Linked DNA regions of Homo sapiens. The protein of the gene in region 1 purifies or fractionates together with the protein of each later gene. This does not show direct contact. Each region holds a gene or a part of one and is shown in the gene's direction. Other genes may lie near its edges.

What was found.
Region 2: the proteins of SERPINA6 (region 1) and PAM purify together in Homo sapiens (affinity purification with mass spectrometry; 3 studies listed by BioGRID and IntAct, with this or other methods). This does not show direct contact.
Region 3: the proteins of SERPINA6 (region 1) and DHFR2 purify together in Homo sapiens (affinity purification with mass spectrometry; 3 studies listed by BioGRID and IntAct, with this or other methods). This does not show direct contact.
Region 4: the proteins of SERPINA6 (region 1) and COCH purify together in Homo sapiens (affinity purification with mass spectrometry; 3 studies listed by BioGRID and IntAct, with this or other methods). This does not show direct contact.

Annotation. Positions count from the first base shown.
Region 1 is NC_000014.9:94,320,337-94,327,170, reverse strand, and holds the start of SERPINA6 (corticosteroid-binding globulin precursor), read left to right. Parts: upstream 1-3,834; 5' UTR 3,835-3,904; intron 3,905-6,834. UniProt on the Homo sapiens protein: Major transport protein for glucocorticoids and progestins in the blood of almost all vertebrate species.
Region 2 is NC_000005.10:102,750,286-102,758,310, forward strand, and holds the start of PAM (peptidyl-glycine alpha-amidating monooxygenase isoform e preproprotein), read left to right. Parts: upstream 1-5,019; 5' UTR 5,020-5,063; intron 5,064-8,025. UniProt on the Homo sapiens protein: Bifunctional enzyme that catalyzes amidation of the C-terminus of proteins. Alpha-amidation is present at the C-terminus of many endocrine hormones and neuropeptides and is required for their activity.
Region 3 is NC_000003.12:94,059,896-94,067,599, reverse strand, and holds the start of DHFR2 (dihydrofolate reductase 2, mitochondrial), read left to right. Parts: upstream 1-4,683; 5' UTR 4,684-4,854; intron 4,855-5,993; 5' UTR 5,994-6,088; coding exon 6,089-6,652; 3' UTR 6,653-7,704. Other genes in the region: NSUN3 (tRNA (cytosine(34)-C(5))-methyltransferase, mitochondrial), read right to left, coding at 3,054-3,163, 4,462-4,473. UniProt on the Homo sapiens protein: Key enzyme in folate metabolism. Contributes to the de novo mitochondrial thymidylate biosynthesis pathway. Required to prevent uracil accumulation in mtDNA. Binds its own mRNA and that of DHFR.
Region 4 is NC_000014.9:30,884,546-30,891,137, forward strand, and holds the end of COCH (cochlin isoform b precursor), read left to right. Parts: exon of another isoform or gene 1-7; coding exon 8-111; exon of another isoform or gene 112-129; intron 130-439; coding exon of another isoform or gene 440-496; intron 497-848; coding exon 849-1,075; exon of another isoform or gene 1,076-1,250; coding exon 1,251-1,767; exon of another isoform or gene 1,768-1,781; intron 1,782-4,597; exon of another isoform or gene 4,598-4,710; intron 4,711-4,838; exon of another isoform or gene 4,839-5,070; coding exon 5,071-5,246; 3' UTR 5,247-6,073; downstream 6,074-6,592. UniProt on the Homo sapiens protein: Plays a role in the control of cell shape and motility in the trabecular meshwork.

The DNA of each region.
Region 1 (6,834 bases):
TTAACCCAATAAGCGCTGGCTCTTTTATATTTAACAAAAATGTTAAGCTTATCTATATCCTCTCACATTTTACTATAAGTATCGAGAAGTCAGACAATAACTTCAGAGACCTTCTTAGCTTCAGAGAAATATCACCAGCTATACCACCACTTCATTTGCTATATATTCAATTTTCATGTTATCACAGGTGACAATGTTGCTAAACTTTCTACCACTACATGTCAAGGATTCTCTTTCCTCTAGCTATAGCCTGTTTCTCACTTTCCTTTAAGCCCTAATCAACGGCCTCCTTGTGGGTCATCACGTTTCCACTCACAATCTTTATAAGGACTTTCCGACTCTGATTTGATCCCAAAGTCATTGCCACATGTTTGGCTTTCATATGCAGCTTTCCACTTCCAGGTGCCAAAATGTGTTCTAGGTACTATGGCTGCCTCATAAATTATCCAAAAATTTACCAGCTTGAGACAATCATTTTTTATGCTTTTGGGTTCTTGGGACAGGAATTCAGAAAAGATACAGTGGGGATGGCTTGTCTCTATTTGATGATGGCTAGGAACTTGGGTTTAGTGTTTTTAGCAAAGTATTAGTTTATCAAACTAAACTAAACTTGGTTTTAGTGTTTTTAGTAAAGAGAAACCATCATAAGATCAAAAATATAATGAATATATTTTAACTCAATGGAATAAAACTCAATCTTTTCAATGTAAGTCAGTAAAATTCACAAAAAAAAAAACAAAAATAAGATATAGCAAATGGGAAATATAAAATAAGATAATATGTCAATCCTAAGACAATTAAAATAAATGTAAAAAGGTTAATTTTGCCAATTAACAGACAAAGACCCTCCTTTGGGGATAAAAAGCTAAATCTAAAAAGATGTTTTGTACATGAGACGCTCTTAAAAAAAGAAGGCACAGGCCGGGCGCGGTAGCTCACGCCTGTAATCCCAGCACTTCAGGAGGCCGAGGCAGGTGGATCATTAGGTCAGGAGATTGAGACCATGCTGGCTGACAAGGTGAAACCCCATCTCTACTAAAAATACAAAAAATTAGCCAGGCATGGTGGTGGGCACCTGTAGTCCCAGCTACTCGGGGGGCTGAGGCAGGAGAATGGCGTGAACCCAGGAGGTGGAGCCTGCAGTGAGCTGAGCACGTGCCACTGCACTCCAGCCTGGGCGACAGAATGAGACTCTATCTCAAAAAAAAAAAAAAAAAAAAAAGAAGGCACAGAGACTTTGGAAATAAAAGGATGAAAAATATCAGGTAAGAGTGAACCAAAAGAAAGGAAAGCAATCATAACACTGTATAAAATTAAATTTAGGACAAAAGTATGCTATACAAAAAAAAAGATACAAGAAAAACAAATACAAGAGGACATAATTATCGAAAGTATATGTGCTTTAATATACAGTCTTGAAGTAAGTCAAGCAACAACTGACCAAGAGAAGTAAGTGAACAATTGCTATTGGTGATTTTAACATTCCCCAATGAGAAACTGAAAGCTTAAATAAATAATCAACATAAATATGAAGATTTAAATAAAATAAGCTCAAGTTATTACATATATACATATATGAATGTGTATATATACATATCAAACAGATATCCATTATTTTTTAAAGAAAACATGAAATGTTTATTAAAATAGGCCATATATGAGCTGGGCACGGTGGCTCACGCCTGTAATCCCAGCACTTTGGGAGGCCGAGGCGGGCGGATCATGAGGTCAGGAGATTGAGACCATCCTGGCTAACACGGTGAAGCCCTGTCTCTACTAAAAATAAAAAATATTAGCTGGGCATGGTGGCTCACGCCTGCAGTCCCAACTACTCGGGAGGCTGAGGCAGGAGAATCCCTTGAACCCAGGAGACGGAGGTTGCAGTGAGCCGAGATCACGCCACCGTACTCCAGACTGGATGACAAAGGAAGACTCCGTCTCGAAAAAAAAAAAAAAAAAAAGACCATATATGGCTATTACAAACCTCAAAACATTCCAAATGTTCAATATCATAATGGACAATATTCTTTGACCATAGTGAAATAAAATTGGAAGTGAATAACAAGAGAATAGCCTAAAATTCTAAATAAACTCAGTGACATATTACTAAACTACACTCTGGTTTTAAAGGAAACCAGAAAAGAAATTTTAAAATACTTAGAAAAAAATTACAATGAAAATAGTAATTATCAAAAATGCGTGGGACATAGCTCACTCAGTATTTAGATGAAAACTTGTAACCTTAAATACATTTATGTGGAGACTGGAAATATTAAAATGTAAGAAAGCTAAGCATTTATCTCAAGAAAATAGAAAAAAGCACAACAGACCAAAACCCAGAGAATTTAAAGGGGTGATTAAAAAATAAAGATATAAACAGAAATCAATGAAATATCAATTTTTTAAAAAACCAGTAACAAAACTAAAAGGTGGATCTTTGGAAAGATTAATTAGCTATATAGATCTCTGTAACAGGACTTATCAAAGGGAGAAAAGACATAAACAAAATACAGAACAAAAAAAGAAAAAAGAATTACTGATATAAAATAATAATGTAAAAATAATAATGGAGAGGCCTAATGAATAACTGTAGTATTTAATTTGAAAATCTAGATGAAATAGATAAATTCCTAGATATAAAGTTCAAACTTGCCTTATAGGATAGGAAACTTGAAAAGACCAATAAACATCTACAAAACTAAGGTGTCTCCAAAACTGCAGACCCATTTGTAGGCTCTACTCTCCTCTTTTCCCCTGGGAAGAGATTCCCTCATCTCTGGATGGAAGCAATGATGCTGTCAACCCAACAGAGAGCAAAGAACCCTAGCGAGGCATTCACAATGCCTCATCCTTCTCCACACTGTGATCAATCAGTCCTAAGGGGGGCAACCACGCCATAGACTTTTGGGGGGAACTGTTATGAACATTGAGAAAAATGAGAATTTCTCTCCTTCTGATATCAACTAACCAGTTAGAACTAAATAACCCAGAGCTACTGTGGCCACATTTGTCCCCAATGCAGACAGAATAAAGTAGAAGAAAGCAGAGCTAGGAAGGAATAAAAAAAAAAAAAAGACAGAGAGAGAGAGAGAAGGAGAGATCTGATGCCTGATTTAGAACTCCGTAGATCCATGCCTGAAGTCCTTTCCACCCTTGGACCTCTCATTCATTCCTTTTTGCTTTAAAGCAGTTCAAATTTGATGTCTGTCACCTGTAATCCAAAGAAAACTGATGAAAAATAAAATGTGGGGAAAGGGGAAGGTGCTAGACTTTAGAATTGAATGGCCTTGGATTTGAATCTCAAGGGCGTTTAACTTAACTTCCATGCAGCTCAGTTTCCTATCTAAAGAGGAGTGACAATGGTACCCACTTCACAGAGTCATTGTGAAGATTTCGTGAGATAATCCAGAGGAAGCGCTTGGCAGATATTATTCCATGTCTGTCTCTCCCACCAGACTAAGACCACTGGAAGGCAGGACCTTGCCCAAGTCATCCCCAATTGGAGCTAAACACCTATTTTTCTTTTTACAAGTATCTGCACCTTGGTGCTAATTAAGGGCACCTAAGACATCTCTGCCAACTGACACAGGGCAACCACATTGATGCAACTCCAGCCACATTTTGGTATTAAAAAAAGACTTCATAGAATTGAACGCAGAGCAAAGTTAATTTGCAGCATTTCTGTGTTTACTCAGCTATCCTGACAAAGCCTCCCATTGGTTAATGACTCGGGGGAGAGGACTACCAAGCGGTGAAGGCCACTGGCCCCTCTAACCATTAACCACCCAGGAAGCTGGCAAACAAAATTTAACAGGCAGCATCCACCGCAGGCTTACTGTACACATGCTAGGGTCCAGGACAGCAGGACCAAGCCAGCAGAAACAGCCTGAGCCCACCGCAGACTGTGAGTAACACCTGAGAACCCTCTGTCCCTCCCCCTGCCCAGCCTCCAGAGCAAAGCCATGGCTGCAGCTCGCTTGTTTGGTTTGTTGAGATGCTTTGTTTTTTTAAAGGGCACATTGAACATTAGGGCAGCCAGCAGTGTTATGAGGCAATCTGGTTAGGATTTTCCAGACCCCGGAGTCTGTGAGTCATCCACAGGGGTTCCGATGTCCCCTGGGTTCCTGCCATGCAGGGGGCTGACACAGAGGGCTGTAGCTAAGAACCATTCTCGTCCACTGCCATGATTGATGCTCCTAAGCCCAGCCAGATAGCCACAACAGCCACAACAGCCACAGAGTCGCAGCCTGCAAGCTACAATGCATCTGCTCCAGTCGGCACCACCGATGAAGGATGCTGGCCGCGGGTCAGGGCCTGGGAGGGCTCAGCTGGCCCAGTGCAGGGGTATTCTTCTGAGTCACGCAGACCTGTCTCCACCATGGCTCCTCACTCAGTGACCTGGGGCAGAGATAATGCACAGAGAACAGAACTGTCTGCACTGTACCACATGTCATGAGGTTTCACTACAGAAGGTCAAGAACTGTGCCTGGCTCATAGGGCATTTGTGAAAACAGAGAACACAGTGAATATTTACTAAGTGAGTCTCTTCAGAGATGAGGAACAAAGAGGGCATACTTGACATGAAATGCATGAATAATATTGATACTCTGCATTTTTATATGGCTGGGTACTTTTTTGTTTGTTTGTTTGTTTGTTTTTTAAGATGGAATTTCACTCTTGTTGCCCAAGCTGGAGTGCAATGGTGCGATCTCGGCTCACTGCAACCTCTGCCTCCTGGGTTCAAGCTATTCTCCAGCCTCAGCCTCCCGAGTAGCTGGAATTACAGGCACACACCATCACACCCAGCTAATGTTTTTGTATTTTTAGTAGAAATGGGTTTCGCCATGTTAGCAAGGCTAGTCTCGAACTCCTGACCTCAGATGATCTGCCCACCTCAGCTTCCAAAAGTGCTGGGATTACAGGCATGAGCCACCACACCTGACCATGGCTGGGTACTCTTAAGAGCTGCTTTACTCATCATTTTGCTCTCTGTAGAGATAGGCAGAATGGCATGGCACAAGCTCCGATGTCAGACATCTAGGCTTAGAATTCCAGCTCAGGGGGAGTTACTCTGTCTCCCTGGATCTCAGTTTTCTCATCTGTAAAATGGGCCCCAGGATGACCCATTAAGTGAGGTCACATAAGCCAAGCACTGATAACAGCCACGTCTGGTATTCACAACAATATTGTGGGGTGGATGGAGTTTTCACCCTCATCTTAGAGAATTAACGCAGGAGAAGGTGAGACATGCAATCTCCCCAGAGCTGGCAGGGGAGCCCATCCTACCATTGGCATCATACCGCACAGGGCCTGTGCCTGAGAGGAGATCCCAGATAGGTATGGCAGTGACCAAAGCTAAGCAAAGATTTCACTGCCTGTCATGGGGCAAGGCCATAGAGAAGCACAGATACAAGGCTTCCTGGAGGCGGTGACCTGGGACCTGAGTCTCAAAGGACAAGATGGAGTGAGCCAGATGAGGCAGGGAGATGAGGGACCTACAGACTGGAGCCACATAGGCAGGACTGAGGCAGATCCATCTTTGTTCCCTGCTCCCAGTCCAGAGCTGGGCTCAGCAAACATGGAAAAATCAAAATGACCTGCCCTGGGGAACTGCAGTGACCTGTCTTGCTGTAACCTGCCCTATAGTGATGTGACATGCCCTGCCCTGCCCCACAGTGGGAGAAAAGGCTGATGTGTGCTGGAAGAACCCCTGGCACCCAGTGTTGCTGTGGCTGAGACCCCAAAGGGCCAGATTTGAGGCTGGAGGCAGAACTGTCACCAGGGACTGGGTCACAAAGACCCCCTGGGCTACATTAGTGAGAATCAGCCCTGTGGTGGGCAATGGGGAGTCCCTGAAAACTTCAAAGCAGAACCGATCAGCTTGAATTTTTGAGAATTTAAAAAGATGCAGCTGCAGATGGGTAAAAGGGCTGGAGGGAGTTGAACAGGAGGCAGGGAGACGAGGTAGGGGCTACTGCTGAGTCCTGAGAGAGATGAGGAGGCTGTGCAGAGGCACTGGAGAATAGACAAACACCAGAAAAATGGGTAAGGCTAGAGGTGTTATTATCAGCTCTATTTTATACTGTGGAAACTGAGGCAGAGTTTAAGTAGCCTGTCCCACATCACCTAATTCATACATGGCAGTGCTAGGGCCCCAATCCAGCTTGATCTGCCACGAAACCCAGGATCTTTTCTGGGTTTCGCGACAAAAGAATTGTCGCGAGGACCCAGAAATCCAAGTCAGAAACCCGATGGAGAATTCAATAAAGCCCATCATTTGGGTGCGGGGAGTGGGGAGCAGGTCACACCTGCCTCTATTATCTAAAGCAGAGAACTAGGGGCTAGAGCAGCCAACAGGGGTTGTTTTCCACCCTGGTGAGATAAGGGAGACACGCAAGGAGGGTTTTGGGAGACTCAGGAGAACTAAGGGTTTTGCGGGGGAGTTCCCACCTGTCATTCTTGAGATTCTGCTTTTGGAACACACCAGGGAAGGGGCCTCTAGGGAATTCCAGAGCAGAACAGTGGTTCCCACGCTCGGAGCGCACCTGTTAAAAGAAAACTTTAGACAAATTAAACGTAGCAGAGTTTATTTGAGCAAAGAAACAATTCATGAATCACACAGCACCCTAAACCAGTAAAGGTTCAGAGAGTGCCACCCAGCAACGTAGGCAGTATTTACAGGCAGAAGAAGGAAGTGACATACACACATAGGCTGATAGGTTACAGCTCTGTGTTTGCCTTGTTTGAACATGTCTGAGCAGTTGGCAGGCTGTGATTGACTGAAAGTTCAGCTGCTATGATTGGCTGAGACTTGGTTACTTGTTACAAACATAT
Region 2 (8,025 bases), on another chromosome or scaffold:
TAGAATATCATTTCTAGCTTTGTTCTTCTGCACACCCCTGGAGCTGATCAGAGTGTGTTGATCCCTTTGTTTTCAAAGGAAACTTTATGTTCACACTCTCGCTACAGGGGTTAGCAGAGTAAGACGAGAAAATAGTCCCATAGTGTTTCTGCCAGCTAATGAGGAAAATTTTTCCTCCTATATATATCATGATAGGTAATTGAATTAGTACTCCAGTAGGAAAGGGTTTGCTATTTCATACTTCTATAGTCTTTTCTTAACACCATGAAATTAAAGACATGCCAGCATGGAGCTGCCTATTCCTGATCGATTTCAAATAAGCAATGTAGTATATTATTGCTTTTATGTGCTTTTACAGCACATGCTGTGCAAGATAATTGACTCCATGACAGATGTCTATATTTCAGAGGAAAATTTATTTGTTAAAGAACAAACATGTATTACTTTAACATGGGGCTATTCATTATATTGCCCACAAGGTGCTTTTTGATGACTTCTAAATTGAAATTAATATTTTCTCTTGTCGTTCTGAATATGCATAAGCAAATTTGACTGTTTGATATAACCATTTTGAAGCTTATTCTGCTACTTGAATGTAACCTTCTGTACTCTTAGATCATGTTTGAAGTGCTGGGAAATGAGAAAGTGTGCATTTGTTTTTTTTTTAATTTTCAAAGAAGCCTGTAGGCCTGAACAGTTGCCAAGTTGTTCAGAGTAAGTTCTGTCCATCAGACCCATCTTTACATAAAATGACTATGAGAAAAGTCTTAAAGGGTACAGGAAATATTTTCCATGAATCCTCCTTTACTCTCTCACTTCTGCTTGAAATGTCACTCTTTTTCAAGGCAAACACTAGTAGGAAGTAGCATCTGAAGTCCCTAACACTTTTGTGTGAGGCAAACTGACTTGGAGAACTGGCAGTATTAGTTGGACAAGGCTGCTATGAAATAAAACTGAAAAAAGAGAGACGTTTACAAAGGAATGTCCATCTCCATCTACTTTGCAACACTGACGGAGACCAATTCTCCTGTCTGTAAATAAACCCTCCCATTCTTTTAGCTGTCAGAGTTTCTCCAGGAAGAAACTAGACCCTTTATCCTCATCAGCTGACTGGTCACCTTTTGCAGTAAGATCATACCATTAATATAAAATTAAAATAATCAATACCAAGGGATTACCATATTCAGAAAGGATATAAGTTTAATAAGGTTCTTTCAAGGACTATTTCTCTTTTGATGAGAAGAAAAAGAGAAATTTCTACCCTCTTGAACTTTCAATGGCCTAGCCTTTTGAGCATTAGAGGAAACAAGCGGGGGGCGGAGAAAGAGATTTTTTAAATTAAATTGGATATAGTATTTTTGAAAGTAAAACTGGGACACTAAGGACTAGTTTTGTAATGACAGAGTGCAGAGACAACCTCAGGTGGGGTGGAGCCCTGAGGAGAGTGAAAAGGGAGGCTTCTCCTCACCTAAGTGGAGGTGGTTGGCTCCACTGCCCAAGCTGGCCTGCACACAGAATGGAATGCCTTGAGGCTGTAAGTCTGAGGCTCTGAGGTGAGGTGCACTACTGGGCGTCTGACAGCACAGCTAAAATTGGCTGTGCCAACCAGTGAGAGGTGACAGCATGCCGGCAGCCCTCGCTTGCTCTGGGCACCTCCGTGGCCTTGGCGCCCACTCTGGCCGCGCTTGAGGAGCCCTTCAGCCCGCCGCTGCACTGTGGGAGCCCCTTCCTGCAATGGCGGAGGTCGGAGCCGGCTCCCTCAGCTTGCAGGGAGGTGTGGAGGGAGAGGCGAGGGCGGGAACCAGGGCTGAGCAGGGCGCTTGCAGGCCAGCTAGAGTTCCGGGTGGGCGTGGGCTTGGCGGGCCCACACTCGGAGTGGCCGGCCGGCCTCGCCCGCCAGGGCAGTGAGGGGCTTAGCACCCGGGCCAGCAGCTGCGGAGGGTGCGCCTGGTCCCCCAGCAGTGCTGGCCCACTGGCACTGCACTCGATTTCTCGCTGGGCCTTAGCTACCTCCCTGCGGGGCAGGGCTCGGGACCTGCAGCCCGCCATGCCTGAGCCTCCCCCAAGGCTGTGGGCTCCTGCGCTACCGAACCTCCCCAAGCCTCCTAGACTAGCGCTGCCCCCTGCTCCATCAGCACTCTGTGTCTAGCTCAGGGTTTGTGGATGCACCAATCAGCACTCTGTATCTAGCTAATCTGGTGGGGACCTGGAGAATCTTTATGTCTAGCTAAGGGATTGTGAATACACCAATCAGCACTCTGTGTCTAGCTCAAGGTTTGTAAATGCATCAATCAGCACCCTGTGTCTAGCTCAAGGTTTGTAAATCCACCAATCAGTACTCTGTATCTAGCTGATCTGGTGGGGACTTGGAGAACCTTTATGTCTAGCTAAGAGATTGTGAATACACTAATCAGCACTCTGTATCTAGCTAATCTAGTGGGACTTGGAGAACTTTTGTGTCTAACTCAGGGATTGTAAACGCACCAATCAGCACCCTGTCAAAACGGACCAATCAGCTCTCTGTAAAACAGACCAATCAGCTCTCTGTAAAATGGACCAATCAGCAGGATGTGCGTGGGGCCAGATAAGGGACTAAAAGCAGGCTGCCCCAGTAGCAACTCGCTGGGGTCCCTTTCTACACTGGAGAAGCTTTGCTCTTTTGCTCTTTGCAATAAATCTTGCTGCTGCTCACTTTTTGGGTCCACACTGCCTTTATGAGCTGTAACACTCACCACGAAGGTCTGCAGCTTCACTCCTGAGCCAGTGAGACCACGAACCCACCAGAAGGAAGAAACTCCAAACACATCCAAACATCAGAAGGAACAAACTCCAGACATGCTGCCTTTAAGAACTGTAACACTCACAGAGAGGGTCCGCGGCTTCATTCTTGAAGTCAGTGAGACCAAGAACTCACCAATTCCAGACACACCAGGACCTTGAGGGTGTGAGAGGTTACCGTCAGGTTACATTTAGAAGTGTTGTCCCAACTACTCTCCCACATTTAAGGCAAAAATATAGTCACCACTGAACAAGAAAATCATCTTGGCACAAAAATGTACTGAATTGAAGAAAGAAAACAAAGAGAAACAAAACACCATAGCCTAGAACTCCTGCCCCTCCACATTTTCTTCTCTCTCTCACACCACAAACTTTCTCTCTGTGACACACACACACACACACACACAGAGGAGAGACGTATTTGAGGGAGGGTCTCAAGTGCTTGCTTTCCTTAACAACCCAGACCAGGAGGAAGAGATAAAGTGACTTAGGAGATGCCTAAAGATGAAGAACAGCCCGGGATCCGTAAACAGACTCAGCTCGGTGTCTTCTCGCACCTTCTCAGAATCAAGTTTCCAAAATGAGGGTCATCCGCCTGCCTTGGAATTTGGGTTGGGAAGTGGATGGAGTTCCTGGACACATGCTCTAGGCCCTGACCAGTCTGGCCACTGCTCACTAGGAATTCTGTTGGGAGGGTGTACAACAGATTTTCCAACTGGTCTACAGCGAGCATCGGTAGTTTCCCTATGGAGAAAATGATTTTCTTTCTGGGAATCCCCCTATAGCCTGAAGGCTTTGCCTCATTTCCCATAGCTCCTCTCCGGTGTACCCCTTCGGTTCGCACTTTCCTACCTTCTTCCCAGTCCACTGGCTTCTCCTTCTTTATCTTCCTCAGTGTCCCTTCTCACAACCTCCCTGCTACCACACCAGATTCTGAAGGGGAGGAGTTGTCTGGAAAGACCAGAGCTGGGTGCTGGGGATCTGGAGCAGCTCGGGACCCGCGCTGCAGGGAGCTGGGATGGGAGAGGTGAGGGAGAGGAGGATGGGACTCTGGGAGAAAGAGAGGGGGCTGGGCTGGCGCTGGGGATGGAAGAGGCGAGGTGAACGCACTCAAGCGGTTACCTGCAGACAGGGAGAGACAGTGGCAAATACCTGCCTTCAATTAAACGCATATCAATTTGTGTGTGGGGTCAGTACTGCACATCATCAAGCCTCTTGGGTATAAAACCTTCCTACTGGAACTCTCCAGCCCCGCCCCCACCACCCCACGCGCGGCTCCCTGCTTTCTCTTGCTTTGGGGTGAGGCTGGGGATGTGGGTGGCTCCAGAGTTCCCTGCCCGCAGTTTAGGGGCGAAGTGATCGGTGTGTGCGCGCTGGGCACTCTGCGGGTTAAAAAGGTTTAGCAGAAAGGGATGCAGATGGAGGCGGGAAGCCAGGCTAAGAAAGGGATACCGACCTCCCTCCTCGGGTCGGAGGTGTGAACTGGGAAGCACTGCGCAGACCTGAGCGAGGTGGCCTGAATCCAGGGGCCGGGCAAGGGGGTGGTGTGAATAGAAATAGCACATTTCCCAGGCTTTCAGCCCCGGTACTCTGCCATCCTTCCAGTTCCATGCACTCAGCCAGGTCTCCAGGCTGGAGCAAGGGCTGGGGGTCAATGGGTCCTTCCTTCTCTCGGGAAACGTTCTTCTGGCGCGAAGCTGGGCGGAGGGAGAGTCGGACATTTTCCTCTGCTTCTCTCAGGGCAGCTGGCGTGGCCACCTCGCAAGGCTGCTTCTAGGGACACGAGACTCGGGAGGGTCAGAGACTTTCAGGCCGGGCCTTCACTCCCTTCCCCGGGGCACTTGGGCAAGAGTTCCAGCTCTTGGCTACCTCTGGCCCGCGCGTGAGTTCAGACACCCAGCACACGCGACCCCCGCAGGGAAACCCCGGGAAGCTGCGCGCAATCGCTGGGGACTCGCCAGGGCTCCACTTCCCAAGCTCCGCGCCCCCTGCGCCCAAAGAGGCAGGGCGGAGCAGAGGCCGCCGGCGTGGAGGAGGCGAGCGCGGGGCTGGCCCGGGAGCCGCCCCCGGGGAGGGACTGAGACCTGCCCCAGGAGTCGAGGGCGAGCGGCGGACCCGGCTGGGCCCGGCGCACGCCGAGGAGAGGGAGCCCCCGCCACCGCCGCTGCCTCCGCGTGCTCAGCCTGTCCCCGCCCAGGGAGCCGGAGCCTCCAACTAACTCCGCCCGCCGCTCCGCCGCCCGCAGGCTCCGGCTTCCGTCCCGGACAGAGCCCGTGGTCGCGCAGGTTGGTGTTGTTGCCGCTGCTGCCGCCACTGCGAGGCGGTCAGGGCAAGGGTGAGGGTGGGGGCGCGGAAGGGGGCCTGGGCTCGGGATCCTGCTGCCACCAATTCCTGGTGCCCCAGGAGGTTGTTGCTTTTTCTCCCGGGCTGCCCGGGTCGGGGGTGGGGGGATGGGGCGGGGATCCAGCGATGCGGCCAGGGAGGATTTTGGGGACTGAGCTATTCTCGCATTTCCCAAACCTCTCTCACGACCCTTCATCACCATTATTAAGTCCCTGGCCAGTTTGTGAGGGGTCGTCCTCCCCTCCGGTCCTTCTCACCTCCGCACTTCTCCTTGTGCCCTCTCCCTAGGGGGTACAATTTGTTCATTCGCCTTTTCTGCCCCCAACTTGGAGAACTCTCCGTGACGCCTAGAAAGCCTCCTCGGTTCTCCGCCCGCCCTTCAGTCTAGTTTGGGGAAGTAGAGGCCGCCGCGGAGTAGCAACCTGGGGTGTGGAGTGGGGGCGAGTGCCGGGAAGCAGTGGAAATTCCTTCCCCTCTTTCTTTCCCGTCCTTGCCCAGCTTTGCTCTCTTCCTGCCGTTTTGCCAGCCTCCGAATGTAATACGCGGGCGAAGGGCGATCTCCAAGGCAGAATGGGAAGTATCCACCACTTGGGATACTAGTTAAGTCTAGGTTCAGTCACCTTCCCAGCTCTGTGGCCTTGGGACCCGCCCCATCGGAACCTGTATGTTGTCATCTGCAAAATATGCGTCAGCTCTGCCTGCCGCTGAGGGTAGTTGTGGGGCTCCCTTGGGATGACTTAGGGTATTACGTGATTTTGAGCACGGTCTCTTGTCTCGTGCAGCTGCCTGATGGCAGGTCCTGTGTTCTGATCGTCTGAGTTCAGGTCCTTTGGCTGAGATGTGATTATCTCTCTGGGTGATTTGGTCAGTAGCTTTGCGGGGCTAAAAGGCATGTGTTCCTGGAGCTGGTCATTGGGGTTCAGAGTTGAAATCGTGTCGTCCCCACCAATCCCTGTGTACAAAGCTATGGACCTTACATCCTGTGCCTTTGTGGTCATAGAAATTCAAGTAGAAGGAAGATCTTATTGGACTTTGTTTGCTTCAGATGTTTTACATTCTTTACAATCGCTTTTCTCTTCTAGGTGCAAACTTAAATTTACTGCTAATTCTAATAATCCAGGAAGGATACTTTCATTTTAGTAAAATCAGACATTTAGCTCAAATAACATGTGACATATTGTTTGTAAATTTTCAGTTTATAATCACAGGCACAAAAAAGCATAGTTCATGCCATTCTAGTTACTTTATAAAGCAAGTAAATGGCCTAAAAAATCAGCTTTACAGGAAGTCAGGGCTGCAGTGAACTGTGTTTATACCACTGCACTCCAGCCTCGGTGACAGAGCAAGACCCTGTCTCAAAAATAAATAATCAGCTTTAGAATTGATATTAAATGGTAAGCCCTGTCGTTCCTGCATTCCTGACTTAATAGGCATTTTCATTCCGCGATGCACTCTGCTATATGCTTTAAAGATATAAAGATATAGAGTATGTTCCTTGTCCTGAAGGGCCTTCCAAGGTAACTTAAAGACTATGTAGTTTTATTTCATATTTTTATATGAACAGTCTTCTAATGACTATACATGGCAAGTAGAATGAGGTCAAGAATGCATTATCAAAGGCCCTTTAAGATCATCATTTGGCCGGCTGCGGTGGCTCACGCCTGTAATCCCAGCACTTTGGGAGGCCGAGGCGGGCAAATCACAAGGTCAGAAGTTCCGTACCAGCCTGGCCGACATGGTGAAATCCCATCTCTACTAAAAATACAAAAAATTACTTGGGCATAGTGGCAGGCACCTGTAATCCCAGCTACTTGGGAGACTGAGGCAGGAGAATCGCTTGAACCTGGGAGGTGGAGGTTTCAGTGAGCTGAGATCACTCCACACACTCCAGCCCTGGTGACAGAGTGAGACTCTCTCAAAAAAAGATAAAACTAAATAAATAAATAGATAAAAAATCATTTGGTGAGTTTGCATAATTGGAAGAAATAACAAGTTTGTTAAGACATTGCTTTCTAAAATAAAATGCCATGTGCTCCTACTTCATCAAGGTGCACTTGGAAATAAAATGAATTCTGTGTTTTTAGAATGAAAGCTTAGGAAAACATTCTACACATGTATGATGTGCTAATCAAATGTTAAAAGCTATAGAAATTTTAATTCTAACTTCCTTCAACTGTATGTTGTGGTTCCCACATACAGTTTTTTTCTCAACTCCTTGAGGAAGGAAATTATAATGCCTAGAAAAAATATACAGAGATTTAATGTAAGATTTTTAATAAGCTGGACCTTAAGGCCTGGTGGGTCCTGAAGTGACTCTGGAAATTTGACTTTAAAAGTTACGAGACTTGGTGAGACTGAGTGTGGTGGCTCATGCCTGTAATCCCAACACTTTGAGAGGCTGAGGCGGGAGTATTGCTTGAGTTCAGGAGTTTGAAACCAGCAACATAGTGAGACCTTCTCTCTACAAAAAATATTAAAAGAAAAAAAAAGCCAGGTGTGGTGGTGCACGCCGGTAGTCCCAGCTACTCAAGAGGCTGAGGAGGGAGGATCTCTTGAAACTGGGAGGTTGAGGCTATAGTGAGCTGTGATCATGCCACCACACTCCAACTTGGGCCACAGAGAGAGGCCCTGTCTCAAAAAAAAAAAAAAAAAAGACTTAGAATTTTGTTTTTTTTTTTTTTTTTTTTTTTTTTTTTTTTTTTCTTGGGGCAAAGAATGAGCAAGAATTCCACCTGGAAAAGATTGACCAGGGATCTTGACTTTCTGTCTAGGTTGTATTTTGTGTGACTCAGTGACATCTCTGATTCTTTTCCTCCTCCTAGGAAGAATTTATCTATCTGCTATGTGCAGAATTTATTAGGCTTTACATACTGGGCTTTGAGGCTTTGATTGGACTCTCACATT
Region 3 (7,704 bases), on another chromosome or scaffold:
GTTGCAATATGCCAGATAAGAGATTGGGAAGGTCTAAGTGAATGGCAGCAGTAGAGAATTTTTTTAAAAAGATCCAAATTAAAAGGGGGCAGGGTAGTTGAGTCTCAAAGACAACTCTCACTTCTGACACCAATTACAAGTTCAGGGATTCCAAGGATGACTCTCAGGTTTGATTATTCACTGGGACACAACCGAACTCACTGAAAGCTGTTATAATCACAGTTATAGTCACAGTTTATTATAATGAAAGCATACAGATTAAAAACAATCACAGGAAGAGACTCATAGTGCAGAATTCACAACAATTCAAAGCATGAAGCTTCCAGCTGTCCTCTCCAACGGAATCATCAACGAGGTCAACTTTTGCTGGCAGTAATGTATGACAGTATGCACAAGAGTATTGCCAACCAGGGACACTCACCAAAGCCTTGGTATCCACTTTTTATTGGGGCTTGGTCACGTATATATGATTGACTGTCCATACAGCTTTTAGTCACAAGCCCTTCTGGATGTTGAGTTGACACCTGTGGTCCCCAGGCCTCAACATAAATCACATCGTTAGATTATCAGGTGTGACCTCAACACCCAGGTAAACAAAGACACACTTATCAGGAAGCACATTCCAAGGGCTTAGAGATCGCCTCCCAGGAGCTGAGGGCAGTTGCCAGACCTATTTTTATATAAGGTTCATTTTTTACTACAAAGGTAGTGAAGGTATAGAGAAGAAAGGAGGAAACCAGACTGATGGTGATACACTTAATTGAGATAAAATATGCAGGTAGCAAAGGCAACATAAGTTTGAAAGGGAAAAATAATAATACACTTTTGAGTTTGCCAAGTAACTGAAGTTGCTAAAAAACAGAAGTATGGGACTAAATCTTAGGAAGAACCTCACAGCTTGAGATGACAGCATACTGATAAAAGTCATGCCATGAATGGGCTTACCTGAGGAGAACATGGAGGCAACAAATAGAGCAAGAATTGAACCAGGGTAAACTCCAATTTTAAAGGGCTGCTCAGAGGATGACTAGACAAGAAAGGTTACTAAAAAAGAGCAAAACTAAATACTAAATCTTCCTCACTACTACAGGAAACTAAAAATATTGAATAAATTACTTTCTAAATAGGCCAAAAAAAGAGCACTTGACTTTCCCTGGAAGTAGACTCTACAAGTACATTATGTCTTGCAAACAAGCAGTTAAAACACAAAATATTTCATTCTGTTCTTATTTCCCCATACCATCTTCCATGCTCAGACTACTTCCTAAGCTGAGAAACCTTTATTTTGCCTATGGCAAATTTAGTGTGTGTTTATGCAAAACTTAAATTACCACAAAAACCCCACAATAGGGTAAATGAAGCAGAAGGCACAGCTAATTAAATGGATTTGAGGTTCATTGCTCATTTTGCTCAGGGTCAAATAATAGTATATGACTTTCTGAGTACACTAAGTAGAAAAATAAGTCATTATAGGATATGAGTAGCCAGACTGCTACAAAGTCTACAGAAAAAAAAAAAGCCTCTTGAAATCTTTTTTTTTTTTAAATCACATCCCAGATATGAGACAGTACAGAACAAGGATGAGCTGTGGGAGTTATTGAGTCAGACAACCCAGGCACAAGCCTCAGCTCTGCCACTTATTAGCTGAGTGAACTTGGGCAAATTACTTAAACTCTTAACGGGTTTGTTCTGAGGATCATGTAAGTCAGTATTGTCTGGCATATAGTAAACATGCAATAAGTGTTTGGTTATTTGGATACTCTATTTGAGTACCTTTGTATACTGAAAACCTCATAAATTTATTACATACTTTATTATTCAGTTCTTCATCTCTGTGACAGAAAATACCCATTTGAAAATCTACTTTTGAAATAAAACCCACGAGTATAAACGGTTTGCATATTACAGCATTTACCAATTTCTATAACAGCTTAATTGTCCTAAAATTATCTCAGAATCACCTCAGACTTTGTGATCTTTATTAGCCAAAACTTAATTTGTTTTAGAAAATGCTCAGAACTGCCCTTTGTAAAGGAGAAATGCTTAAGAGTTGATCCAAGAAAAAAATGGACAAGCCAACCATCTGAAAAATTAGTCTGGACCAAGTTCCAGATAATATCTGTAGCCATGCAACTTTTTTTCCTCATGCAACATGTAGTGGGCTTTTGCCCTAACTTCATGAACAGTGCACCTTCTTCCCTCAACCTAGGAGGCCTAGTTCTTTTTGTCAAAGTAACTCCTCTAAGTCACCAAGACCCAGCTTCCCTTCAGGCCTTTGCTGGCACCCTCAGGCTTTGTTAGATACTTGGATCACAGTATTTACAAATTAGTTTATATAGTTGTAACCACACCCATCTCCTCACTTCTCCCATTAACACTAACTAGACGGCATGTAAACTGGACATGCAGACTGTCTTGCTCTGTATTCCAGAGAGGGTTATATAGTGTATCAGGCACTCAATGTCAAGAACCCATACAGTAATCCATACATTAACATCATCTTACCAAACAGACAAATCACATTTCTCCCACTTCCATGCATTAAACATTCCTTATTTTTATATTTAAATAATTTTGTGTGTATATGCACGTGTTCAAAATATACCCAGCCATCGACATAGGAAAGAAATATGATTACCAAATAAAGTGTACCTTTGGCTGAGATAAAGCAGTGCTGGCTTTAAAGATTTGTTGTATTATCTTCTAAATTTCAGAAATCAGTCAAATATTCCAAATTTTATGTTTTTTTCTTTTACAGTATAATTAATTTTGTCAAACTAGTGGGCATTCCTATTTCAAGGATCAAAGTAATTGCTCAAAGCAAAGGCGTAACAATTTGTGCTTACCATCCCGACAAAGTTTTATTTCCCCTTTCCAACATGCTATGATTCATTCTATTTCTTCTTAGTTGTTCCTTTCTATAGCTTCAGTAGGAAAAGGCAACCAGATTTAGATTCCTTTGCCTTTTAACCTCACAGCATCCCTCCCACAAAAAGGAGGACTACATATTGTACTTTGTTCCATCATAAAGCATCGAGATGAATTATACTAACCTTACTGTATTCCAGGCATCTCCGAGTTCTTTGGAATACTGTTTTTCAAAATGATCCAACACAACTTTGCAAATCTGTTTTGCAAGCTTCCCCTCTGATTTTGCTTTCAGCTATGACGATAAGAAAAAGTTGCTGACACACAGTGATATTACAAATTTACTGAACGTCAACATTAGCAAGGTCTTTTTTTAAGACAAGAACACTTTTTTTGGATAATTACTAGTTCTTGAAATGGAAGCAATACCTTACATGTACCAAAACTGTACATTATCTAATTATGAAAAAGCAAGGTTTTTCCAAATAATTATTTTCCAAATGTGAAGCAAAGGTTAAAACAGAATCTACTGGGGCTGAAGAAACTGTCAAAAGGAACAAAATTAATTTTAAAAAGTCACTGTAGGGGCTAGGCAGGTGGCTCACACCTGTAATCCCAGCACTGTGGGAGGCAGAGGCGGGAGGATCACATGAGGTCTGGAGTTCAAGACCAGGTTGGCCAACACGGGAAACCCGTCTCTACTAAAAATACAAAAATTAGCCGAGAGTAGTGGTGGGCGCCTGTAACCCCACCTACTCAGGGGGCTGAGGTGGGAGAATCGCTTGAACTCAGGAGGTGGAGGTTGCAGTGAGCCGAGATCGCGCCACTGTACTCCAGCTGGCTCATGCTTTGCAGGGACGAGGCGAGAGGATCATTTCCCAGTTCAAGACCAGACTGGAAAACATATCAAGGACGTGTCTCTACAAAAAGTAAAAAAAAAAAAAAAATTAGCCAGGCGTAGTGGCCTGCTCCTGTAGTCCTAGCTACTAGGGAGGCTGAGGCTGGAGGATCGCTTGAACCCAGGAGTTCAAGGTTACAGTGAGCTATGATGGAGCAGCTGCATTCCAGATTGGGTGACAGAGCAAGAACTTGTATCTAAACAAAACTAAAAAGTCACCGGGGATGCTGACATCAAGAAAAATTGGTGAAAGGTATTTGAGAACTCTGTACTATCTTTGCAACGTTATTTTAAAGTGAAAAGTTAATTTAGGGAGAAAAGTCACTCCAATTTCATCGTGAACTTCCTTGCAATTGTTTCATTTATTCATCCAAGAAACGTGTATTCAATGCCTACTATGTAACAGACACTGTTCTAAGCTCCCGGGATACCGCTGTGACACAGAAAACAAATCTCAGCCCTCCAAGAGCTGGAGGGAGTGGGTACTAGAAGTCTGCGAGCTGGACGGAAGGGACTCAGCATTACAGCACTCAGCATTATTTCAGGGCTTGACAGTAAAGCCAAAGAAACGCTGATCTCGCGAGGGGACGAACAAAGGTGATGTTCCCCCATCCCAGCACCCTCCCTCGCCACCTCGGCCGCGTCCAGAAGCGTCTCATTCAGATAGAGGTACCCAGCCGGGCCCCAGGTCTCACCTGGGTCAGCATTGTCCCGCTGAGAGCTTTCAAACAACAGGTGTACGCGAATCAGTATCAAAAAGCCTCCAGGGAACTGAAAAAAACAGTCTGACTTCCGGGATTCGCGGGCATCCACTTTCATTCTCACGTTTCCTCTTCAATTTCTCGCGAGATACTGATTTGCTCGCGCTATAGAATTCTTGTCGAAGAGGCTTAGCTCCCGCGGGAGATTTCGTGCGCAGTTACTTCCGGTAGCTGGTAAAGGCTGATACTTCCCAGGACGCGGAGGTAACGGGCCAGGGCCAAAGCGACTTTCGCTACTTGGATTGGTCGGCGTAGCTTTGGGCGGCCGGACCTTAGAAAGTCACACATCTGCGCGCCTGTGCGGCCCCTGCTTCTGCGGATGCTGAGGTGGGAGGATCGCTTGGGCAGAAGTTTGAGGTTGCAGTGACCCGTGATCGCGCCACTGCACTGCAGCGTGGGCGACAGAGCGAGGCTTTGTCTCAAAAATAAATAAAAAGTCGCATATTGTGCTGAACAGTGTGTATATGCATGGGGCTCAATAAAGGAATGAGTTTTGGGGTTATGTTGTATGATGACTGATTTAAAATATTCTCAAAGCGAAGCTAGTTACTGACTTAATCTACCAAATCTAGTGACCCCTGTTAACCTAGACATTCAGTACCCAAGGATAAAAGGGTGGAATATAATGAAAAAGAAATTAAGTCATGCTTTTCCCCAGACCTGGCCCATGGGGATAATCTCTCCTTTTAATGGAGAGTGTTAAACTGAAGTAGGCATGTAAAGCGGTTACAACAGTGATTAGGAAACAGTAAATGCCCAAATGTTAGCTGCTATTATTTTCACTATTGTGATCATTGTGATTTTTGTCGCGTTGATACCAAATGCGTGAAGACCAAAAGGACCCTCCACTCTAGCCTCCCCAATTCACCTTTACAAGGGAGCAATGTTTAATGGTTCTCCAAGGAAGATGTTTATTACACCTATTTTGACACGAATAGAAGTTTATTTGCTCTTTTGGTGTCATGCTTCAGTAACTATCATTTGTAGCAGCAATCAGCAATTAGAAAAAACCGGTTTGATATGGTCCCTGATAGTTAATAATCATCATTTTGAGTTGTTCCTTGATGCTCATATCAATATACGTACATGCTATAGGTACAAGTCTTATATTCATGTAAAAACATGTCTTTCCTTCTAATCTGATTTGAAGCTTAATATATTTATTTATTTAAACAAGTTTCCAAGTCACCTAAAAAATGCATCTTATTAGAATTTAGATTTGGTACAAAAGACTATGATAATCAGGAATGAAATGATGCCATCTCTTGGATGCCGTCTGTTTAATGTTTGTGGAAAAGTCGGTCTAACCTTTCAGCCTCTGTATTTTTTATAATTTTATAAATTTATATTTTATAAATATTTTATAAATTTATACTTTATAAATATATTTTATATAATTTATTTTTCTATGTTCATTCCAGAATGTTGCAATTAATTAATACAGTGGTATTGTATTTGCAATGTAGGCACGTAAAAAAATTTGAAGAAGGGAATTTCGCGGCATTCTTGGCCTGGCTTCCTGGCGTAGCCAGCAAGTTCGGAGGTGTTAACCGCTGCTGTCATGTTTCTTTTGCTAAACTGCATCGTCGCTGTGTCCCAAAACATGGGCATCGGCAAGAACGGGGACCTGCCCAGGCCGCCGCTCAGGAATGAATTCAGGTATTTCCAGAGAATGACCACAACTTCTTCAGTAGAGGGTAAACAGAATCTGGTGATTATGGGTAGGAAGACCTGGTTCTCCATTCCTGAGAAGAATCGACCTTTAAAGGATAGAATTAATTTAGTTCTCAGCAGAGAACTCAAGGAACCTCCACAAGGAGCTCATTTTCTTGCCAGAAGTTTGGATGATGCCTTAAAACTTACTGAACGACCAGAATTAGCAAATAAAGTAGACATGATTTGGATAGTTGGTGGCAGTTCTGTTTATAAGGAAGCCATGAATCACCTAGGCCATCTTAAACTATTTGTGACAAGGATCATGCAGGACTTTGAAAGTGACACGTTTTTTTCAGAAATTGACTTGGAGAAATATAAACTTCTGCCTGAATACCCAGGTGTTCTCTCTGATGTCCAGGAGGGGAAACACATCAAGTACAAATTTGAAGTATGTGAGAAGGATGATTAATATGAAGGTGTTTTCTGGTTTAAGTTGTTCCCCCTCCCTCTGAGAAAAGTATGCATTTTTACATTAGAAAAGGGACTTTTGTTGACTTCAGATCTATGGATAATTATTTCTAAGCAACGTGTTTTTATTCCTCACTAATCTTGGCTATATCAGATACCATTTATGAAACATTCTTGCTATAACTGTCTCTCCAAGACCCCGACTGAGTCCCCAGCACCTGCTACAGTGAGCTGCCATTCCACACCCATCACATGTGGCACTCTTGCCACTCCTTGACATTGTCAGGCTTTTCTAATGTTGGTAGTATTTATTAAAGATGAAGATGCACATACCCTTCAGCTGAGCAGTTTCACTAGTAGGAAATACCAAAAGCTTCGTACATGTATATCCAGAGGTTTGTAGACAAATGTTGCAGCCTTTTTTGTAACAGTGAAAAACTGAAAACAACCTGGAAGTCCAGTGATGGGAAAATGAATATATTTCTGTCTTAGATTGGGGAACCCAAAGCAGATTCCAAGACTGAAATTTAAGTGAAAGCAGTTTATTTGCTAGGTCATACCAGAAGTCATCAATCGAAGTATGGAGAAATGGAACTGAGAAGGTAAAAACCAGTTCAAAATCAGTGAGGAGGTTCTCAATGGTAACGAGCTCCATACTGCTGAGATACAGGGAAACGGAGGGGAGAAAGCTAGAGTATTTAACCCCCACTCCTTGGTTGTCAGCTCCCTGTCCTGTGTGTGGGCAGAACGTACTCCACCTACTCAATAGCAAGTTCCAGGTGTTTGCTGAAAGAAGCTGCTGTAATGTACGGGAACGGTGAATGCCAAACACTTAAAGCAATTCCATGTTTAAGTATGTAAACTCTTCATACTTTTTTTTTTTTTTCTTTTTAAGACAGAATTTCACTCTTGTTGCCCAGGCGGAGTGCAATGGAACAACCTTGGCTCACGGCAACTTCAGCCTTCCCAGGTTCAAGCAATTCTCCTGCCTCAGGCTCCTGGGTGGCTGGGACTACAGGCGCGTGCCACCACGCCAGGCTAATTTTGTATTTT
Region 4 (6,592 bases), about 63 Mb from region 1:
CACTCAGTGAACATCCCAAAATAGAATTTTACTTGAAAAACTTTACATCAGCCAAAGATGTTTTGTTTGCCATAAAGGAAGTAGGTTTCAGAGGGGGTAATTCCAATACAGGTAAGTAGACTTTGATACCTGGGATGTAACATAGGAGAGGGTTATCAGTGATCAGACATGTAAAACAGTATTATGCTATTTTATATGAGCAGATGTGAAATCCTCCTGGAACTGAAATCTTGGCTAGGTCTGCATTTGATCATCTGAGATAAATTTTCAATTTATAATGGAAGTATACCAAAGTGTTGATATTTCTTATTTTAAAAAATATAAAGCATGGTGATTTAGAATTCTCATACATTGGATTGACTAGATATAACATTGGAGAAGTATCTCTTTGTAATGCTAAAAAGAAGTGAAAATCAACAGACTTATCTAATGAATGCAGATGTGGCAGAAAGAATGAGTAGCACTACCGTTGACTCTGAAGAGAGACTTCTTAGAGGTACTAATCAGTCACCAAAGGGCTACATAGAGAGCACATGCATGGAAGTGGGAATCAGTTTTGTGTTTCTAACTGGCGATTGATGTGGGGTAAACAAATGTGAGGCTTCTAGGAGGTGGAGGGGGAACTAATATGGCTTGTGAAGATAAATAGGCCTGGTAGATAATTAAACTTTCCCAGCTGATGCATCTGTTACAGAACTGGGTTCTATATAATTCTTTTTTGTGTGCCCCGCCCCACTGCCAGTTCTATATATAATTCTTAAACTTTGCAGCATCAAATGCTACAGGGAAACAGAAATGTGGTTTGAGCAGTGGTAAAGGCTATTTGTTTGCTTCTTTTTCAAATTTAGGAAAAGCCTTGAAGCATACTGCTCAGAAATTCTTCACGGTAGATGCTGGAGTAAGAAAAGGGATCCCCAAAGTGGTGGTGGTATTTATTGATGGTTGGCCTTCTGATGACATCGAGGAAGCAGGCATTGTGGCCAGAGAGTTTGGTGTCAATGTATTTATAGTTTCTGTGGCCAAGCCTATCCCTGAAGAACTGGGGATGGTTCAGGATGTCACATTTGTTGACAAGGTAAAGTGGTGAGGGTTATCTTCTGTTACAGTGATGGGTATTCCATTTTGGACCTCTAAGTGCAGTGCTGACTGCCTCTTATCTAGATTAACTTGAAACATTCAGGATTTTCCAGTTTTTAAGAAGAAACAACTTTTGATCCTTTTGGATATCTTTTATGTGTCTCCCCCATTAGGCTGTCTGTCGGAATAATGGCTTCTTCTCTTACCACATGCCCAACTGGTTTGGCACCACAAAATACGTAAAGCCTCTGGTACAGAAGCTGTGCACTCATGAACAAATGATGTGCAGCAAGACCTGTTATAACTCAGTGAACATTGCCTTTCTAATTGATGGCTCCAGCAGTGTTGGAGATAGCAATTTCCGCCTCATGCTTGAATTTGTTTCCAACATAGCCAAGACTTTTGAAATCTCGGACATTGGTGCCAAGATAGCTGCTGTACAGTTTACTTATGATCAGCGCACGGAGTTCAGTTTCACTGACTATAGCACCAAAGAGAATGTCCTAGCTGTCATCAGAAACATCCGCTATATGAGTGGTGGAACAGCTACTGGTGATGCCATTTCCTTCACTGTTAGAAATGTGTTTGGCCCTATAAGGGAGAGCCCCAACAAGAACTTCCTAGTAATTGTCACAGATGGGCAGTCCTATGATGATGTCCAAGGCCCTGCAGCTGCTGCACATGATGCAGGTAAGGTCCTTGTTCTTTATAGGAGAAGGGAACAGAAAAAACGGTTCAGTGAATTTAGGAGTAAATAAAAATTTAAGCATTTATTTCATTAAACAAACACCTGTGGCTTTACCCAATATTAACTGTTAAAGCAGCCCTACTCATCTCATTCTACAGATAAGGAAGCAAACTTCCTGGAAATGACATTTCTAGTAAGTGGCAAGGCCAAGATCCAAACCCAGGCATTCTGGCTCCAGAGTGCACATTCCTAACCACTGTATTGTTGGGAGAATTGCCATGAGAACCATGTCACATTAAGGAAATATGCTTATACATATACAATTAAGGTGCTCATATTTAGCTCAAACTTGGACTATATCTCCAAATAGCCAGCTTATAACCTACCATGAATCTGCCATTCAGTAATTTATCCTAACTTTCTTGTGTATGAAACAGGTAATTGCTCTGTCACCAGGCTGGAGTGCAGTGGCATGTAGTGAGCTACAACCTCCAACTATTGGGCTCAAGCAATCCTCCTGTGTCAGCCTTCCAAATAGCTAGGACGACAGGCACATGCCACTGCCCCTGGCTAATTTTTAAATTTTTTTGGGGAGAGACGGGGGTCTCACTTTGTTGCCCAGGCTGATCTCAAACTCCTGGGCTCAAGCAATCCTCACACCTTGGCCTCCCAAAGTGCTGGGATTACAGGCATAAGCCACCACACCCAACCCTAACTTTTATTTTAGTCAAGTTTTGTCTGGCATGAGTTTCCTAAGATAAGGTCTCCCATAGACTTTACCTATCCCATCAAAATTTCCTTGGCCAGGTGCAGTGGCTCACATCTGTAATTCAGCACTTTGGGAGGCTGAGGTGGGCGGGATCACCTGAGGTCAGGAGTTCAAGACCAGCCGGGCCAACATGGTAAAACCCAGTCTCTATTAAAAATACAAAAATTAGCTGGGTGTGGTAACATACACCTGTAATCCCAGCTACTCAGGAGGCTGAGGCACGAGAATCACTTGAACCCAGGAGGCAGAGGTTGCAATGAACTGAGATCGTGCCATTGTACTCCAGCCTGGGCGACAGAGTGAGACTCTGTCTCAAAAAGAAAAAAAAAAAAAAAAAAAAACTTTTTCCCCCCCGCTTAAGATAATAAAAACACACTCTGGTGTTATAAAAGGGTATAAGAAGGGTTTCTTTCTTCCTCACCCCAGCCTTAATATTACTTTTGGCACAGGCCTCGTTCCTGAAGACATTAACGTAATGTGTTAGAGATCAAATAGGCCAACAAAAAGCTAAGATTCCCTTTCTGAGGATATAACTGAGTGACAGGAGGGAAGAATCAATGGACTTGTTTTTTTTAACACTCTTCTGTACCTCATTTTCCCTACTTAATTCCTAATGACATAACCTTTTTCCTTTCTACACATTAGTACCTCTGCCAATGTACTCACATATTTTTACAGATACTGATGAAAGATTATTCTTAAAACAGAGAACACATGCAATTTAAGTTCCACATCTAGCTTGTAAAAAGTATTTTTTATACATCAGCAACTAGCCTGTGAAGTAAAGACCTGTTTACTATCATATTCCTTAATACTTAGCTTACTGAACTTATAGTTAACAGGATTGTATTCAGGCTATAAAGTGATTAGGTTGATTAAAGTTCAGGAGGCTGGACTACACCAATATTGATTCGTGAAAATTATCCCTTAGTGATATTGAAAGTTGCAAAAGCCAGAAAATAGGGTAGGATTTTAGGGGTAGATCACAACAGTTTTTATTTATTTTCAGGGTCTTGCTCTGTCACCCAGGCTGGAGTACAGTGGTGTGATTATTTTTTTTTTTAACTGTAATTATATGCTGGGCTTGAGCTAAACAATCTGAACTAGAATGTAGAACTGAAAAGAAGTGAGGAAAACTGAGGGGGAGGAAAAAAATATTTTGACTTTTTTTTTTTTTAACCAGGGAGTGAGAGTCAGGAAAAGGAGACTGGAACAATTGGACATTGTTCCAAGTAGCTTTTACATCATCTAAACCTGCTGCATATCTTAGGTATTTACCACTCTGAGCACTGTATACCACTAGAAGGGGAATGAAACCTTAGATCTGTAGAGGAAAACTATTACAGAAACTCCAAAAGTTATAGAAAATTGCACCCAGCATTAGATAGATGGTACTCTACACTAAGAATCTGCTAAATGAGGCCAGGTGTGGTGGCTTATGCCTGTAATCCCAGCACTTTGGGAGGCCGAGGCAGATGGATCGCTTGAGCCCTGGAGTTCGAGATGAGACCAGCCTGAACAACATGGTGAAACCCCATCTCTACAAAGAAATTTAAAAATTAGCTGGGCTTAGTGGCATGCGCTTGTAGTCCCAGCTATTTGAGGATGGGGGTGCTGAGGAGGATAGTTTGAGCCCAGGAAGTTGAGGCTGCAGTGAGCCTTGATTGTACCACTGCACTCCAGCATGGGCAAAAGAGCCAGACCCTGTCTGAGAAAAAAAAAAAAAAAAGATTAAATGAAAACTTCTACAATTGGGATTGGGGTGAATCCAACTAATGTATTATTACCCTAAATGTACAGTTGTACTAAAAGCCTTCTAGTAACTAAAGTGAATGGAAATAGAATACCTCAATGAAACTGGAAGAAATTACTCCAGTTTCATAAGATCCCTCTTGGGCAGTACTTTTTAGTCACTAGTTTTGCTTTGGGATTATAGGCTGACATTTTCTGATTATTAGACAGTTTGCCAATATAAAGATTGAAATGGAAGAGGATTTTTCATTATCAGAGGACTAGTCACCATTCCTCAAACAATGCAACCTTTGAACACTTTTGCTATTTACTTATCCCATCTCTTGTGCCATTCTTCCTTGCTTTAATGGATTGTGACTCTGACTCCAGTATACTGTTTGATGCAGGCCAACCTCATACGGAAAATTTTCACCATCCGCATTTACTGTAGGATTTTAAAAAAGATACTGTGGATCAGGTTAAAAGTCTTCTTCTATTCCTAGTTTATAGGTGTGTTCTGTCATTAATGGATATTGAACTTTATCAAATTATTTCTTATCAGTGATGACTTACCTGTTAATGTGGCGAATTACAGATATAGCAGAGTTTCTGGTTTGGACCACTCTTTTGCCACTCTCGTCACAATGACTGTGAAAACTTAATTTGTTCAGGGGATTTAATTGTCCAGAAATTAGTAAGCAGTTTTCGCTGCAACTATGTAACAGTGTATGGAAAACATATAGACATAATTCCATATATTAGCTAGACCTGATTTTCAATTCACTTTAAAATGTTTTCATTGTAGGAATCACTATCTTCTCTGTTGGTGTGGCTTGGGCACCTCTGGATGACCTGAAAGATATGGCTTCTAAACCGAAGGAGTCTCATGCTTTCTTCACAAGAGAGTTCACAGGATTAGAACCAATTGTTTCTGATGTCATCAGAGGCATTTGTAGAGATTTCTTAGAATCCCAGCAATAATGGTAACATTTTGACAACTGAAAGAAAAAGTACAAGGGGATCCAGTGTGTAAATTGTATTCTCATAATACTGAAATGCTTTAGCATACTAGAATCAGATACAAAACTATTAAGTATGTCAACAGCCATTTAGGCAAATAAGCACTCCTTTAAAGCCGCTGCCTTCTGGTTACAATTTACAGTGTACTTTGTTAAAAACACTGCTGAGGCTTCATAATCATGGCTCTTAGAAACTCAGGAAAGAGGAGATAATGTGGATTAAAACCTTAAGAGTTCTAACCATGCCTACTAAATGTACAGATATGCAAATTCCATAGCTCAATAAAAGAATCTGATACTTAGACCAAAAGCAACATTCGTTCTCTAACCATTCTGTATTGATTATATAAGCAAAATGAAAAGAGAAACTTAAATGAACACAGCTCTTTAACATGGTTCAGGTACACATATTTTGACCCAAGTGGATATTTTCTTAAAACCAATCAATAATAGCTAGCTATTACTGCAGACTATAAAATCTGGATATAGAAAGGAGACCTGTATCAAACTGCTTTTGTAGTGTGTTTTCATAACAACTTATGACTAAAAATATCACACTGAATAAGAGAGCAGGATTGCCAGGTATTTTTCTATTTCTCTCCTTAATTTTATATGTATATAGATATATTTGGCTTATATTCTAAGTCACCTAAGTACTTAAAAGTTAAGTTGGTAAAGTATTTACTGACTGCTTATAAACATTTAAAGACAAAGACATTTCAAATAACTGCAGAAAAAATATTGTAGTTTGAATATTTAAGCAATAAAACTGCTAGTGAGTTATTGTAAGCTGGCTTACTTTTATTACTGCTAGTGTCTCCCCTGAGGATATGGTAAAAATTCATGTGGAAAGACCAATCTGAATTGTTTTTTAAATCATGTAATAATACCAAGAATATTTTTTCTTTGATTCAATTATTTATTGAGGCCAAGCACAGTGGCTCATGCCTGTAATCCCAGCACTTTGGGAGGCTGAAGCAGGAGGACTGCTTGAGGCCAAGAATTCAAGACCAGCCTGGGCAACATAGTGAGAACCCCCTCTACAAAAAAGAAAAAAAAATTAGCCGGGTGGGATGGTGCATGTCTGTAGTCTGAGCTACTTGGGAGGCTGAGGTGGGAGGACTGCTTGAGCCGAGGAGGTCAAGGCTACAGTGAGCCATGATCACACCACTGCACTCCAGCTTGGGTGACAGAGCAAGACCCTATCTCCAAAATAAAAAAAAAAATAAAAAGACACAAGTTTATCGAATACCTACTGTCCTAGGCATTATACACAGCCACTACCTGATTAAACAGTATAAGATATTT